Linked DNA regions of Homo sapiens. The protein of the gene in region 1 purifies or fractionates together with the protein of each later gene. This does not show direct contact. Each region holds a gene or a part of one and is shown on either strand. Other genes may lie near its edges.

The links. Proteins that work in one complex are often made in the same cells at the same time.
Region 2: the proteins of TRIM6 (region 1) and ACTG2 purify together in Homo sapiens (affinity purification with mass spectrometry, with the first as the bait; 2 studies listed by BioGRID). This does not show direct contact.

The regions. Positions count from the first base shown.
Region 1 is NC_000011.10:5,606,032-5,615,050, reverse strand, and holds the end of TRIM6 (tripartite motif-containing protein 6), read right to left. Parts: intron 6,680-9,019; coding exon 6,657-6,679; intron 4,907-6,656; coding exon 4,806-4,906; intron 4,517-4,805; coding exon 4,490-4,516; intron 4,275-4,489; coding exon 3,709-4,274; 3' UTR 2,099-3,708; downstream 1-2,098. Other genes in the region: TRIM6-TRIM34 (tripartite motif-containing 6 and tripartite motif-containing 34), read right to left, coding at 4,490-4,516, 4,806-4,906, 6,657-6,679.
Region 2 is NC_000002.12:73,902,910-73,911,096, reverse strand, and holds part of ACTG2 (actin, gamma-enteric smooth muscle isoform 1 precursor), read right to left. Parts: intron 2,425-8,187; coding exon 2,314-2,424; intron 2,043-2,313; coding exon 1,958-2,042; intron 1-1,957. UniProt on the Homo sapiens protein: Actins are highly conserved proteins that are involved in various types of cell motility and are ubiquitously expressed in all eukaryotic cells.

The DNA of each region.
Region 1 (9,019 bases):
ATTTTAAATAATTCAATGGTCAAAGAAGAAATCAAAAGGGAAAATAGAATCTTGAATAGAATGGAGAATATATCAAAATTTGTGAGATGCATTTAAAGCCACAGAAGGAAATGTATAGCTCTAAGTGCTATATATACAAAAAAGAACCCCATCTGATTTATTGCCTTGATGGTGATGAGTTTCACAAGTCAAAATGTATCAAGTTATATACTTTATGAAATGTATTATATGTCAGTTATATTACAATAATAATGTTAAGACAGTCCTCTTCCCCTAAAAAGATTATTTTTAAGTTAGAATCAAACTTACATGCCAGCTCTAACAAGCACTCGCTTGTTGGGAAATATTAGGATAACTATACCACATGTCTAGAACTTTAGTGACAATACAGTTCTCTTTTACAAACTTTAGGCTATAGAATGGAATTAACATAGTTCCAGAAAAAAGCTGAGATCCTGAGTCCTCTATAATGGGAAAAAGGATTACTTAGGGTTCCAGGCAGTTTCCACCAAAATCTGAGTTTTCTTTTCCTTGAAATTTGATTGTACATGATTGCATACAGCTAGACATTTAAAAAATCTTTACAGTTAGGTTTAGCCCTATGGCTATTCTCATTAATAGAAAATGAGCAGATATTACGAATCCCATCTATGAACTAAGGATTTAAAAAGCACGTTTTCTCCCCTAAGTTTTCTTCACCTTTCTGCCAGCTTCATGCTGTTACCATTCTGGGGTACAGCAAGTGCCACAAGATGAAAGCAAGCTTGGTGCATGAATCCCACATGGAACAGTGCCACTCACCACCAGTTACATACACTCATGACCGATTGTTTTACATTAACAAGAAGTACATTTCTTTAGTATTTGATCCATTATGTATTTTTAGAGTTCTTTTTCATAGTAGTTGAGCCTACTCTATCACATGTCAAGAACAGAAGGCCTCTGTCAAGCCCCCATAACCCCTCAAGAAAAGGTCAGAGCTGTGAACTTACCCTAATAATTGTCCCCAAGTCTCAGATTGAGCAACCTTCCCCAGGTCTTACCTATAGAATTCCAGCAAGTACTTAGTTTGGCTTTCACTATTATCTAAAGTCATTCACTGGACAATACTTTGGGTTCTCCAAGTGAATTTACTTATAAAGAAGTAAATATCACAATAAAGCTGTTAAGAAAGTCCCTCTCCCTTCCAAAATCTTCTTTTTAAGTTAGCATCAAACTTAAATATCGGCTCTAGCAAGCACTCACATTTTGGGAAATATTAGGATAACTATACCACATCCCTAGAACTCTGGTGACAAAAAAGAAAAATTACTTATAAAGTAAATTCACTTGGAAAGTAAATTTACTTGTAAAATGAGTTTACAGAAGAGAGCTGGGCTAACTCTTTTGCCTAGAACTTACTTATTATATGGGAAAATAAGTGGGAAGGGGATAACTACTCCAGCAGATCTTTCTCTTTCCTGAACTTCCACCAGCCCCATAGGTCCCAGTCAGCTGGCCCTATCTCCTTTTATATCTCTTCCAATTGAAACGCAGACCAGGATAAGGAGTTTGCATCCAGCCTCTGGGCTTCCACAGATATGATCTCCCAAATATTATAAAACGGTGCCTTAGAACAAACCAGTAGTGAGCTTTTACTATAATCTGCACTACTTTATCTCACCATAGACACCCAAGCTGAGCCTTGATAACAAATCAGTGTTTCATCAAACCATGAAGGAGCTTCAAGTGCCCAACAGACTGAGGACTAACGGCAGGGGCCAGAGTCTGCAGAATCATTCTCTGGTCATGAGCCCTTTCTATGATCTTCCAAATTTCTACACTTCTAGATATGTTGAGATCTTCTTTTCTCTGTCATTACCTTCCATAAAAATGCCTCAGGGCAGCTGGGAAGGTGCAGGTTCTGTAGAGATAAACATATGTGCCTTGAAACCTCCTCTGTATCCTGAGTCCATAGGCTTTTACACTAGGGCTCACTTAGGGACAGAAATTTCATTATAGGATCTACTCCAGAGTTGTCCAATAGAAATACAATGTAAGCCACATATGTAATTTTAAGGTTTCTAGTATCCACATTAAAAAAGTAAAATGAAACAGGTAAAATGAATAACATACTTTATTTAATCCAATAGAGCCAACATATTATCATTGCAATACACAAAGGAAAAGTTATTAGTGAGATATTTTACATTATTTTTTGAAGTAGGTATTTGAAATCTGGTATATATTTTATACATTGAGCACATCTCAATTCAGACTAGGCATGTATGAAGTACTCAACAGACATTGGTGGCTCCTGGATACCATATGGGACAGCCAGTGCCATTCTCATCCTTGATATTTGTTTCTACCCTCACATGTACCTCTTAATTTCTTTTATAGCTGGTTCAAAAAACATATTGCACCTCTCTACCAAAGTCATAGCAGCTCACTCAACAGCTGTTTGTTCCTGCGCATAAAGAGAGTGTGGAAAAGCTGGAAGAAATCATCCTCTTCCTTTAAGTGCTTTATATTGTTCATATTTTCTCTTTGTGTTTTCTTTCTATTCTGAGAGAAAAATATGTATTGGATTGTTTTTCTCTCCCCACTACTCTTTTGTTTTTACTGCAATTAATTTGAAAGACGTATTTTTTTTTATTGTTCTATTGCTACTCTTAAATGTAGAGAGGAAGGCCAAAGGTTGTAGTGAAGATTGTAGTGAAGACTCTCTTCAATTTGAGTTTGAAGCTACCCAAATTATCATTATAATGGTTTGGTTTTAGAGCTCAATCCTATACATACTTATACAAAAACAAAGTAATTTATTTGCTTATTATTGCATTTTATAGAACCTGGCAAAGATATTACAAGAATGTAAAAATACAGGCCAATTTCTTTCATTAACATAGATGAGAACAAAATCTAAACAATACGTTATCAAAATAAATCCAGTATTGCATACAACAAATAATAATGGTGTATTTCAGCAAGTTGTGGTAACAAATTGAAGTAAATCAATGTACTAAGCCACATTAACAGAACAAAAATGATACACAATTGTCTCAATAATTTACAGAAAAGACATAGGTAGAATACGAGTTTTCATTTTATACAAAAACTTGTAGTAAATTAACAGATCAGAACTTCCTAAATTTGATCCCCTGCATCAATCAAAAAAAACCTGCATCAAATACTATGCTTAATGGCAAAATACTGAAAGCGCCCCCTATCCACCTCAAGACCTGTCATCAGTCAAAGATGCTTACTCTCACCACTGGGTGCATCCTAGTACTGAGTAACTGTTTAAAACGAAAGAACTGTCTGGGCGCGGCGGCTCACATCTGTAATCCCAGCACTTTGGGAGACCGAGGCGGGTGGATCACTTGCGGTCAGGAGTTCGAGATCAGCCTGGCCAACACGGTGAAACCCTATCTCTATAAAAATACAAAAATTAGTTGGGCATGGTGGTGGGTGCCTGTAATCCCAGCTACTTGGGATGCTGAGGCAGGAGGTTCGCTTGAACCCAGGAGGCAGAGGTTGCAGTGAGCCGAGATTGCGCCAGTGCACTCCAGCCTGGGCGACAGAGCGAGATTCCATCTCAAAAAAGATTCAAAAACCAAAAAACAACAAAAGAATTGAGAACACAGAAAAACAGAAGATCAGAAGGGAGAATCACATGCTGATAAGCCTCAGGGTACTTATCAGAAGTGGGTGGGAACAGAAGAATATTCAAGAGCTTGGACGACGCAGGGTCATAGGAATTACACAGTTGCAAGGATTAAAATATGGACAAAGAGTAGTGGGAAAGTAATATTTAGAGAAAGTGTAGATGGGGAAGCCATGGTTTGTGACATTATAAAAGGAGACAGTACCAGCCTCATAATCTAAGAAAACCCCAACACGGCGAGGGGGCACTGTCATGGAGAGAAGCAGGGAAGGGGAAGAATCCTCATAGGCCCTATATTCATGGTTATGCTGTAACCCAATCACCCAGTATCCACTCTGAGGCTGATACCTGGAGTAAGCACTGTGATTTTGAGCAAAATGGTTGAAAGAGAATGTAGGTCCCAGTGAATTGCTGCATACCCCCAGGATCCAGGCAGTCTTCTTGGCCACATCTACCTCCCAGTAATGCTTACCAGAGGAGAAGTGCTGGGAGCCCAGGACACTACAGTCATAATGCTTTTCCAGACAGGAAGGTCCAGATACTTTAGCTCCCACAAACCTCACTTGTCTCCGGTTTTTAGCCAGGACAAGATTTAAATTAGCTGTGTGTGGATTCAGGGTCACGTCAACTGTAGGAAAAGGTACAACATCAGCAGATGAGAACGGGGACATGGGTCTCGTTATGCTGAGAAGAGGAAACACAGGAAGTGGTTGGAGGAACTGGAACTATATGGCGGGGATGGGGGAGGCATCAACACCTAGGATCTGTGTGGCTATGTCTGGGGAGGGCATGTGAAAGGAGATCAGAATGTGCCAGCCCAAAGAGGCCATGGCTTCTACTTACCCCAGTAGCTTTGGACATCTGTCAGCTCTGTAATGATGAAAAGAGTCAATAATGTTGAATAGGACCAACTGTCTCATGTCTGGTATCTCTCTCCTTACTACATTGAGGGGAATGGTGAGGAATCCTGTGAGGATGTCACCTGGCCATTTCATCTCCCCTTAAATACAAACCGCATCTTCTTCAGCACACTATGTCCCTCCCTCTGGGACCTCCCTCTTTGCCACTATGCTCAAATACCGACTATAGCCTCTATCCCGTTTATTTCTTCCCACGACAGTAATTTCACATCCAAACTCTTTCCCCTGAATCTCCTTACCTCTACACACTCGCAGCATCCTTTTCAGATCTGGGGCTCGGAACATACTTCTCAGCTTTGTAGGGAGAGCTTCTGGCTTCCTCAGGGTCCAGAACTCACTCCTAGAAAGGACAGGACTTCTGAGTTCCCACACTGCTGACTGTGGGTTCCTCCACCACCCATCTCCCTTACCTCCCAAGCCTACTGATGAATTCCAATCCTCCTTTCTGAATACACTTAGCATCATTCTGCAAACAGCCCTGGCACTGGAGCCAGAAGAGCTAGACTAGAAACTATCATCTCACCATCTACATAAACTTGTGTAAGATTTAACTTTTTTTTTTGAGAAGGAGTCTCGCTCTGTCACCCAGGCTGGAGTGCAGTGGCACGATCTCGGCTCACTGCAACCTCCACCTCCCAGGTTCAAGCGATTCTCCTGCCTCAGCCTTCTGAGTAGCTGGGACTACAGGCGCGTGCCACCACGCCTGGCTAATTTTCTTGTATATTTAGTAGAGATAGGGTTTCATCATGTTAGCCAGGATGGTTTTGATCTCCTGACCTCGTGATCTGCCCTCCTCAGCCTCCCAAAGTGCTGGGATTACAGGTGTGAGTCACTGCGCCTGTCCAAGATTTAACTTCTTAAAGTCTCATTTTGTTTTTCTGTTGTTGTTTTTAGAAAATACTATAATTTTCCTTTTTCTGTGTCCTAGAGATGTTATGCAGTTCAGTAAAATAATGGCTTGGAAATCTTTTGCTACCTCTAAAAAAAGATATAAAATATTTAAAATCAGAGGGGTTGAAGATGTCTGGGTTGACAGGCAGAACACCAGGGGCCTATTGCTGGGGCTTTGAAAGTATCAAATGAAGGGGTTTCTTCAGAAGAGTCTGTGGGCTTAGGCCCTGGGATTTCTCAGAAAACCTTCAAAACAGCATTTTAGGATTTGCCGTCTCTGGGAATGTTATGCCACTAGCTGGAGAAAAGATGTCCTCACCTCCAAACGGAGAGTACAGATTTCAGAAGGGACGATAGGGTTCCCATTTCGTGTGTCTGTGAGGAGCATGGAGGAACCAAGTGTGCAAGCAGCTTGACATGTCACCTTGTTGGATGAGACTCTGGAGTATGTGATAGAGAACATGTTTGATTCCCGGGCTAAATTATTATCCTCCAGAGCTCGGGTTTACGTTTTTACTGGAATTGAGACAAAAGAAAATCTACTAGGGAGCAAGGCCTGGGAGAAAGAAAAACTTAAGGCAGATGTGCCAAGACCAAATTCTTAGACCTTGAGAAATAATGCAGATGGGAATGTCACTCTGATAAAATTCACGGGCAGGAAGGTGCAGTGAGCCGAGATCACACCACTGCACTCCAGCCTGGGCGACAGAGTGAAACTCTGTCTCAAAAAAAAAAAAAAAAAAAAATTTATGGGCAAAGAAAATTCCTGTGTATTTTGAGGTAACTATAAACTTAAGAATCAGGGATGAAAGCAGGCACAGAGGTTTATGGAAAAGTACACTAACAGGGTACTTGGGGAGTCACTGATACTGCAACTCTTTATTCATTTTTTTTTGTTTGTTTGAGGCAGAGTCTCCCTTTGTCTCCCAGGCTGGAGTGCAGTGGCGCAATACTGCAACTCTTTATTCTAAATAACAGTACTGTCCCCACCTACTGACCTCCCATCACCCACATTTTCCTACCAGAGAGGCCAGTTCATCCCCTTTATTTGGGGATGCCAAAACTCCATGTGATGCGCGATTCAAGACTACTCTCTTGAATCTTCCCCACTCTGATTCTTCTTCCCTTTCCCACTGATCATGGGTAAAGGAATCATTTGTCAGTCCAGGGGAACTACCTCATGTTCTCCTTACACATACCTTTCTGTGACATCACTCACATCCTAGGAAGGAAAAAGACAGGTTAAGTCAAGGAGTAACAGGTCATGCCCTTATCCACATTTCTCCTTCCATGTCCCCTACCCCATGATATGATACAAATAAAGATAATCCTAATGTGGAGGCCACAAAGTAGAGAAAAAACTCAGGGCAGACTGTCCCTAAGAACCCATGTGAAGACATCAAAAAATAACTCAATTGACTCATCAGTGTCTTGATTTTCACAACATTGTGTGTGTGCATATGTGTGTGTAATGTTATGTATGTATAGCATGTATTATTTGTCAGGCATTGTGCCTGGCCTAGAGAACCTCAGATGATGAAGTCATAATTTCTATCCTTGAGTAGCTTACATCCTGTTCTGGTTGCTGAAGATACAGGCTCATGGACTTTATATATGGCTGTTTCTCAAACTTCACCTTCTCTAACCTTCTACCCTACCTTTGCTGACTTCATCCATTTCCTTCATTTTAATGTACACATGTTGATGATTCTCAAATCTGTACTTCTGCTCAGCCCCCTTTCCTTATGATTTTGATTAATATATACACCAGCAAATATGTCACAGGTACCTCAAATGCAAGATGTTTAAAAGAACTTAGTTCGGCAACTCTTGTCTCCCTTCCATCCTACTGAATCACACTAGCAACCACTTAAGTCACCAAATTTAAACAAAATAGGAAATAACTACCATATATTCACCCTGGCATCCTATCTTTGCCCAAGTCAGTCCACTTCACATCCTCAATTTCATTTGGTCACCAGTTGTTCACCTTTATCACTGCCACTGCTAGTCTCATTTCTGTGGAATTGGCCTATTCCTTTCTATTTGGTCTTTTTATCTTGTGCTCCATACATCTCAATGACCCCGAAGAAAAGCTTAAGTTTGGTCCACATAATACAGGATTAACTATTTTCTCTGTATTAGGGCTGTTTATGGTGGCATTTCATAGAGGCACAACTCAAACTGGCTTGAACATAGAATGTGGTAGAGGTGCTGTGTGTGTCAATTTGCAGTAAATATCCAGGATTGTATCAATCTTACATTGTGGCTGTACTGAGGAACTGAAATGATCAAATCGATGTGCTATTTCATGTGGCTACTTCTCTTATGTTGGCTTTATGTCCATATTTTGAAGCTTTTATCTTGGCTATAAAATATTTTTTTTTTTTGAGATGGAGTCTTGCTCTGTCGCCCAGGCTGGAGTGCAGTGGTGCGATCTCGGCTCACTGCACGCTCCGCCTCCTGGGTTCGCGCCATTCTCCTGCCTCAGCCTCCCGAGTAGCTGGGACTACAGGCGCCCGCCACCACGCCCGGCTAATTTTTTTGTGTTTTTAGTAGAGACGGGGTTTCACCGTGTTAGCCAGGATGGTCTCAATCTCCTGACCTCATGATCCGCCTGCCTCGGCCTCCCAAAGTGCTGGGATTACAGGCGTGAGCCACCGCGCTCGGCCTTGGCTATAAAATCTTAATGGGCAACAATTCACACAGATATGGAAAAGAGAAAGAACAATGTCTGTGATGGGAAAATTCCAGAAAGTTTATTTTTAGAAAAGACTACTCAAGTTTAAATGTCCGTGGGGCAGTCATACTAATGAATGTGGAAGTGTCTAAACTAGCAATATGAATTGACGATTCATTTGCATTTAAAAAATATTTACAGTTTGAGGACTGTTGAGGAGCCAGAACAAAAGGTGAAGGAGAAAGTATCAGGGTAATAATATCAATGATGAGGACAAAAAGGCAAGAAGAATAAAATGAAGATGCAAAGCAGGAAGCAGTGAATGAGAAAAAGCTGTAACAGGCAGAAAGTAGCTACCCATGGCTCTAATACTAAGACCCAAGAATATGTAAATAAACAATTATTCCACCAAGAAAGAAGGAGCAAGAGGAAAGCACGAAGACAAACAAAATATAAAGAATATCTTACACTCTGAAGGTTACAGAATATCACAAGCTACATCATGCCTCAAATTCACAACCACACTATTCATTCTATGCAGAAAATAGCTGCTAGAATTTCAACCTCAGTTCAAGTCCCTCCATCAAATCTCTCTAGGCTTGATACCTTGTAATCTGCGACCTACACACATACAGACCAGAGCCCAGACCCCCAAAACCAGTTCAAATATCAATTGCTACAGTATGTTAAATGATTCTGCTCTAGAGAAGAGAGTGAAAACAAAGAAGGGCTGGTAATACATCATCTCTAAGAATTTAGCTTGGCGTAAGTGTGCCTGTGACTAAGCTGGGTAAGAAGCACTTGGCAAATTCCCAACACAGCATCAGAGACGAGAGGTGCCTAATGAACAGTGGTTCTCAACTGGGAGAGCACTGTGTTCAC
Region 2 (8,187 bases), on another chromosome or scaffold:
ATTGTTATCATAGGAGATGACAGCTCCATGCATGTTATTAACCCTGAAGACCTTCCAGTGGGCCAAGATGTGGAGATGAAATACAGTGGTATTGATGATCCTGAACCTGTGTAGGCCGAGGCTAATGTGTATATTTTAGTTTTTATCAAAAAAGCTCTAAAAGTAAAAAATAAAATAAAATAAATTTAATAGAAAAAAGCTTGTAGAATAAAGGATATAAATGAAACTATTTTTGGCTGGGGGTGATGATCACACCTGTAATCCCAGTACTTTGGGAGGCTGAGGTGGGCAGATCACTTGAGATCAGGAGTTCGAGACCAGCCTGGCCAACATGAGATGGATCTGGAGAGGAGAATGGTCAGCCCTGGAAATTTCTGATCGACATTTAAAGGGTGTACTCCTTTTTTTTCTCTACTAAATAAAGACAAAAATAAGCCAGGCATGGTGGCACGCTCCTGTAGTCCCAGCTACTTGGGAGTTTGAGGCATGAGAATCACTTGAACCTAGGAGGCGGAGGTTGCAGTGAGCTGAGATCGCACTACTGCACTCCAGCCTGGGTGACAGAGTGAGACTTCATCTCAAAAAAAAAAAAAAAAAAAAGTCATGGGAGGCTGAGGCAGGAGAATCGTTTGAACGTGGGAGACAGAGGTTGCAATGAGCCGAGATCACGCTACTGCACTCCAGCCTGGTGACAGAGCAAGGCTCCGTCTCAAAAAAAAAAAAAAAAAAAAGTCGAAAAAAGATGTTTTTCTATTACTGTCACTACAAAAAAAGTAAAAATGGCTTTAAAAATTAAAAAGTTTATAAGGTAAAAAACATTACAGTAAGCTAAGGTTAATTTATTATTGAAGAAAGAATAATATATATATATACATATTTTTTGAGACGGAGTCTCGCTCTGTCACACAGGCTGGAGGGCAGTGGCGTGATCTTGGCTCACTGCAACCTCTGCCTCCCAGGTTCAAGTGACTCTTCTGCCTCAGCCTCCCAAGTAGCTGGGATTACAGGTGCCTGACACCACGTCCAACTAATTTTTGTATTTTTAGTAGAGACGGGGTTTCACCGTGTTGGCCAGGCTGGTCTGGAACTCCTGACCTCAGGTGATCCGCCCACCTCAGCCTCACAAAGTGCTGGGATTTCAGGTGTGAGCCACTGTGCCTGGCCAAGAATAATATTTTTATAAATGTAGTACAGCCGATGTGTACAGTGTTTATAGTCTACAGTAGTACACAGTAACATTTTAGGTCTTCACATTTTCTCACTACTCACTCACTAACCCACCCAGAGCAACTTCTAGTCTTGCAAGCTCCATTCATGTAAGTGCCCTACACAGGTGTACCATTTTTTATCTTTGATATTATATTTTCACTGTAACTTTTCTATGTTTCAATATGTTTAGCTATACAAATACCTAACCATTCTGTTACAGTTCCCTACAGTATTAATTATAGTTAAATGCTATACTGTCTGTAGCCTGGAAGCAATAGGCCACGCCATACAGCCGGGGCATGTAGTAGGCTACAGCGTCTAGGTTTGTGCAAGTACACTCTCTGATGTTCCCACAGTGACAAAGTCACCTAATGACACACATTTCTCGGAACGTATCCCTGTCATTAAGCAATGTGTAACTGCACTTACATTTCCACCACCACAGGTTCTACTCTTTCTGCTTCATGAAGCAGAAACATTCCAGTATTGTTGGAATGTGTGTATGTGTAGAAGCTCCTGGAATTATTACTGTGAGGGAAACAGTTCTTGCTGGATGTTTTTTCCAACTATACCAGCTAGGCTCACATCTGGCATTCCACATGGGCATTCTCACCTATTATCCCTAAGAAAGATTTTGCCTGGACTTCAGCTGTCCATTTGATTCTTCTGAGCAGGAGCCTCTGCCAGACCCCAGCTTTTCCCTACCTCCCCTGAAGTCAGAAAAGGAATGGATTACAGGATTACTCACCTGTCGTGCGGCCAGAGGCATAGAGGGAGAGCACAGCTTGAATGGCGACGTACATGGCAGGGACATTGAAGGTTTCAAACATGATCTTAAAGGACAATGAAGAATAAAAGATTATTTGGCAAAAATCACAGCACTTCTTGGCCTGTAGAATGGTTTGTAATCTCATTAAGGGCAGGAACTATGCCAGTTTGATAGTTCATTATTCCACACCCACTCCCCCAGGGCCTGGCATGGACCACAGACATAGCAGGTCCTCAGAGAGTTCTGTTGCACTGATGTTTGAAGGGGAGAAAGTATCTGGCCAAGCATCCATGTTGCATTCTTATGCCAGTGTTCAAGTCTTCCTGGCTTCTTACCTGGGTCATCTTTTCCCTGTTGGCCTTGGGATTTAGGGGAGCCTCTGTGAGCAGGGTGGGGTGCTCTTCAGGTGCTACACGCAGCTCATTGTAGAAGGAGTGGTGCCAGATCTAGTGGAGACAAAAGCCATATGAGCCTGGCAGACTCCCAATGGCTGGAAAATTCTCATTGACATTCCCATGCTGGGAGAGTGTGGCACCATGTTACACAGGATGGGATGGATCTGGAGAGGAGAATGGTCAGCCCTGGAAATTTCTGATTGACATTTAAAGGGTATACTCCTTCTCAACAGGGCCCCAGGTAGGACTCAGACCTGGAACCAGTATTTTCTATGTGTTCATTATTTCCATTTGACCTTCCCTCCTCTTCACTCTCCTACAGTCTCTCCCCTGCCTTTGTGCACTGAGTGATGCAAGGCACATTGTATCACTCAAGTGTTCATTGCTTTCTGGCTTCTGGCTATATTTGGCTGATAGAAGATTCCTGCAAGAGGCTGGAAAGTAGGAGGGCAAAAGAAGTCAGGGTCTATCTCCTGACAATGGCGTGGCCCTCCATGAGCACAGTTCCTGTTGGGCAGCCCCTCTTTCAGAGCTCAAGCTCTCACTAAGCTCCAATGACACTGCCCTCGTCACCTGACCCCTTCATGTTTAGGGGTGTGAGAGCTCCCTCTGTTGCTGGCTCTTGGGTGCCTCGACATCCCTTTGTAGTTGCCTTAACCCTATGCACATTTCTGTAGGACATTCATTTAACCAGTTGTAAAACCCCAGCTGAGTATACACTGTCAAACAATTTCAAAACCGCAGCTGAGTGTACACTATCTCCTGCTGAGAATCTGACAGAGGCACTTGGGCTCAATTTTCACTGGCTATTATTGGCCAGGCTGGTGCTTTAAAGCAGGGTTTCTCAATCGCAGCTCTATGACATTTTAGGTTGGATAATTCTTTGTTGTGGAGGGCCGACCAGTATCCCTGGTCTCCACCCACTGGATGCTAGCAGCAGTTTTCCAGTTGTGACAATAAAAAATGTCTGCAGACATTGCCAAATGTCCTTTGGGAAGCAAAATCATCCTGGTTAAGAACCACCGCTTAGCCTGGGCAACACACTGTGGGCCTGTCTCTACAAAAAGATAAAAAATTAGCCAGGCATGGTAGCGCCTGCCTGTAATCTCAGCTACTCAGGAGGCTGGGGCAGGAGGATCGCTTGAGCCCAGGAGGTCAAGGCTGCAGTGAGCTGTGATCATGGCACTGCACTCCAGCCTGGGCAACAGAGCAAAACCCTGTCTCAAAAATAAAAAAGAACCACTGTTTTAGAGGAAGTTAATTTCTTCCTGTGTCCAGTTCCTTCTTCAGTGATCAAGTACGACCAAAAAGGAGTCTTTCAGAGGGATTGGGCAAAGTGTAGCAGGGACATGGGGCTTTGGTTTCCTCAGAGGTGAGGCACAGGGTCATTTGATGCCATTGGACCCATGTATTTATGGACCGCCAGGTTTGTGCTAAGACGGTGGTAAGTGTGATGAGGGCAGATATGAATCAGACATGGCACCCTATTCTCAGTTGCAAAGTCCAGAGGGGAGAGAGACGTTTAAAAAAGACCAAAACAAACAAAAAGAAAAACACAAGCCACATTTTAAGTGAAAGAAGAGGTAGGAGTAATTCATTATCTGAGGGATTTAAATGGGCCTTGAGGGCAAAAGAAGGTCTCCAGAGGCTGCTGCAAAAGGCATCCGAGGCAGAGGGAATGGCACAGGCAGAGGCCCTGGACTGTGAGCATTGCACAGGAGCCTGAAGGACAGCAACTGGTCTTAAGGAGGGGACCCCATGCTACTTAAAATGTGCTTCCTCAAGGCCCTGTCTCAGAGTCACCTGGGATCATCTGACCCACTGAACCAGAATCCTTGGGTGTTGGGCTCAAGCATCTGCACTTGATTTTGGTTTCTTTTTTGGAGTTTTTATACCTTAAAAGTTAAAGATGTTGATAATTTTTAAAGTTAGAAAAATATTTTTAAGGTCGAGTGTGGTGACTTATGCCTGTAATCCCAGCACTTTGGGGAGCTGAGACAGGCAGATTGCTTGAGCCCAGGGGTTGGAGACCAGCCTGGGTAACAAAGTGAGACCCTGTCTCTACAAAAAATTAAAAAATCAACTGGATGTGGTGTGCACCTCTGTTCCCAGCTACACCGGAGACAGAGGCAAGAGGATTCCTTGAGCCCAGGAGGCCAAGACCACAGTGAGTTATGACTGCACCACTGCACTCCGGCCTGGGCGACAGAGGAAGATCCTAGCTCAAAATTTTTATGTATTTATTTATTTATTTATTTTTTATTTTTTATTTTGAGATGGAGTCTTGCTCTGTCGCCCAGGCTGGAGTACAGTGGCGCCATCTCGGCTCACTGCAAGCTCCGCCTCCCGGGTTCACGGCATTCTCCTGCGTCAGCCTCCCGAGTAGCTGGGACTACGGGTGCCCACCACCACACCTGGCTAATTTTTTGTATTTTTAGTAGAGATGTGGTTTCACCGTGTTAGCCAGGATGGTCTCAATCTCCTGACCTCGTGATCCACCCGCCTCCGCCTCCCAAAGTGCTGGGATTACAGGCGTGAGCCACCGCGCCCGGCCAAAATTTTTTTTAATGGAATAAAAATCTCCCCTATGTCCATCACCTAACAACAAACAGTTAACATTTTGGCTTTTTTCTTTTTCCTAACCTTTGTCTTTATGTATTTTTAAATTTATTACTATCATTATTTATTTCATATTCTTTTATTTATTATATTATTATACTATGTTCAAATTTGTTTTTATAACAAATTATTTTACTTTTCATAATAAATATTTATTTTTGATAAACTTAAACTTTTGAAAATGCTTATATAACATTTTATCATATACTATCATATATTTAATCACATTACTATTCATGGTGTCTTTGATTTTTGGTTATAAATAATCCTATGATAGTTATCTTTGTGCATATTGCAATTTATTTTTTGTATTCAGGATGTTTTCCAAAGAAGAAGATTCTAAAAGTGGAATGACTGGGCTAAAGAACATAGCAATTGGAAGACTTTCTGATTTCTGTTATTAACAAATAGGCTAAACCAATCTTTACTTCAGAATAAAAAAGTGGCTGTTTTACCCCATTCTTAACTGAATTCAGTGCTCTCACTCTTAAAATATGAAATAATTTGATAGGTAAAAATCATACCTAGTTATTTTACTTCAATTTTTTTGTTTCAAATGAGTTTAAATTTTTTCACATTTGCAACTTTTCATAATTTCTGTTCAGCTAATTAACTGTTTTTTATTTGTCTGGGGGACACTTCATATTTTTAATTGTCAATTTGCATTAACTGTTCATATTAATCCCTCATTGCCCTTTTGTTTTGCAATTTGTTATTTGGCTTTTAAATTTGGTTATTTTTGAGATATTAAAAGTTACGATTTTTTAAGAAGTCAAATTTGTCATTCTTTTTCTCTATGACCACTCTTACCAGAAATTTGATTAAATGCTCACATTAACTGTATTATATTTTTGGTAATTTAAATGTTTACATTTAACTTTTATATTTAATTGACATGTGTTTGGTGAAATGGTATGAGCTTAGGGCTATAAACCAAGATTCTCTAGCTCCAAAAATAACTAATCAGTTGTCCCAGAAATAATTTATTGACTAGTCCTTTCCTCCTTTCTGATGCTGGAAGTTTCATTTATTATATATTTCCTCTTTACCTTTTTGCTGGTATCAAATTGTTTTAACTTTATAATTTATATTGTATTTTATTACATTATGTCTTCCTTCATAATTAAAAAAATTCATTTTGTTCTCATAATTGTTGCTTATTTATTTCTGCAAACATACTTTAGAATTATGTCACATAATTTTTATTGGAATGCAATGAGCCTATAAATTAATTTGAGGACATTTGACACTTTTACCCAATTTGGTTTTTCTTTTAAGGCACACAAGATTATATATATATATATATATATATATATATATATATATACACACACACACACACACACACACACACACACACACACAATGATTTATAGATATATAATGAAATGATTATATAATGAAATGATTTTATATTTATACATATATACATTTTTAAAAAAAAATATATATAGGGTCTCACTCTGTTGCCCAGGCTGGAGTGCAGTGATGCGATCTTGGCTCACTGAAACCTCCACCTCCCAAGTTTAAGTGATTCTCCTGCCTCAGCCTCTGGAGTAGCTGGGACGACAGGTGCTAACCACCACATCCAGCTAATTATTGTTTAGTAGAGACAGGATTTCACCATGTTGGTTGGCCAGGCTGGACTCAAGTGATCCACCTGCCTCAGCCTCCCAAAGTGCTGGGATTACAGGTATGAGCCACTGTGCCCGGCCTTAAGGCACATAATTTATTTTTAAGGGTTTCTTTAAAGAGTTCACATGTTGTCACTACTGTGAATAAAATAGTTTGTCTATTATTTGTCTATTATGTTTTCTTCCTTCCTTCCTTTCTTTTTTTTTTTTTTTTTTTTTTTTGAGACATGGTCTCACTCTATCACCCAGGCTGGAGTGCAGTGGCGTGAACACAGCTCACTGCAGCCTCCACCACCTGGGCTCAAGTGATTCTCATGCCTCAGCCTCCTGAATAGCTGAGACCGCAGTCATGTGTTACCATGCCCAGTGAATTTTTACATTTTTATTTCATAGAGATAGGGTATCACCATGTTGCCCAGGCTGGCCTCAAGCTATCCTCCTGCCTTGGCTTCCCAAAGTGTTGGGATTACAGGCATGAGCCACTGGCCTCTATTATGTGGTTTTTTTTTTGTTTTTTTTTTTTTTTTTTTTGAGACGGAGTCTCACTCTGTCACCCACAGTGGAGTGCAGTGGCACAATCTCGGCTCACTGCAACCTCTGCCTCCCGGGTTCAAGCGATTCTCCTGCCGCAGCCTCCCGAGTAGCTGGGATTACAGGCACCCGCCACCATGTCCAGCTAATTTTTGTATTTTTAGTAGAGACGGGGTTTCATCATGTTGGCCAGGTTGGTCTCAAGCTCCTGATTTTGTGATCCACCCGCCTCGGTCTCCCAAAGTGCTGGGATTACAGGCATAAGCCACCACGCCCGGCCTATTATGTTTTTAAATTAGATACTGTTACATATATATGAATCATATGTGTCACTTATTGAGCACATAAGTATGTTCCATGCCTTGGGATTATACTAAGCATTTAGCTAATTCAATCTTCAAAGCAACCTAATGCACAAAGTGTTTTTTATCTTCACTTTACAAATGGGAAAACTAAGACTTATAGGGTGGGATTTGCACCTGGATTTCCTGCCATTGCCTCTAATGTCTGTGCTCTTACCCACTCCACTGTATAACGTGAAATCCATTGCATTTTATGTGCAGTACTTATCTCACATTGAGTGACTCAGTCTAGGATTTAGAGAAAAGTATAAGTGAATTACAGACTTCAAGTCAACATTCCTCATTTCCAGTTGCAGTCTGCTCAATAAGCCCCCTATCACATTTCCAAAGACAGGCGTTGCAGAAACAAGAACACTCAGCCAACTGTCACCAGAGTTAATCACAAGAATATTAGAAAGGCTCTATTAACATTTTGCACACATAATTTTGTTTACCATGAGCTCCACCATTTAAAAATCCCGCTCCCCCCACAATATTTTCTTAAACAAAAATGCTTCTAGAAACCCTGAGAGAGTTCTACTTAGAAACTTTCACTGGAGACTCATCATCATAGTCTAGCATCAGTCCACCTATGTGAAGTCTTGACAGGGAAGATAAGAATGAGAGAGATGGCTGTTTGCCTCTCTTGAGCCAGCACCAGCATTTTAAAGAAGGGGTGAGCACTGGCC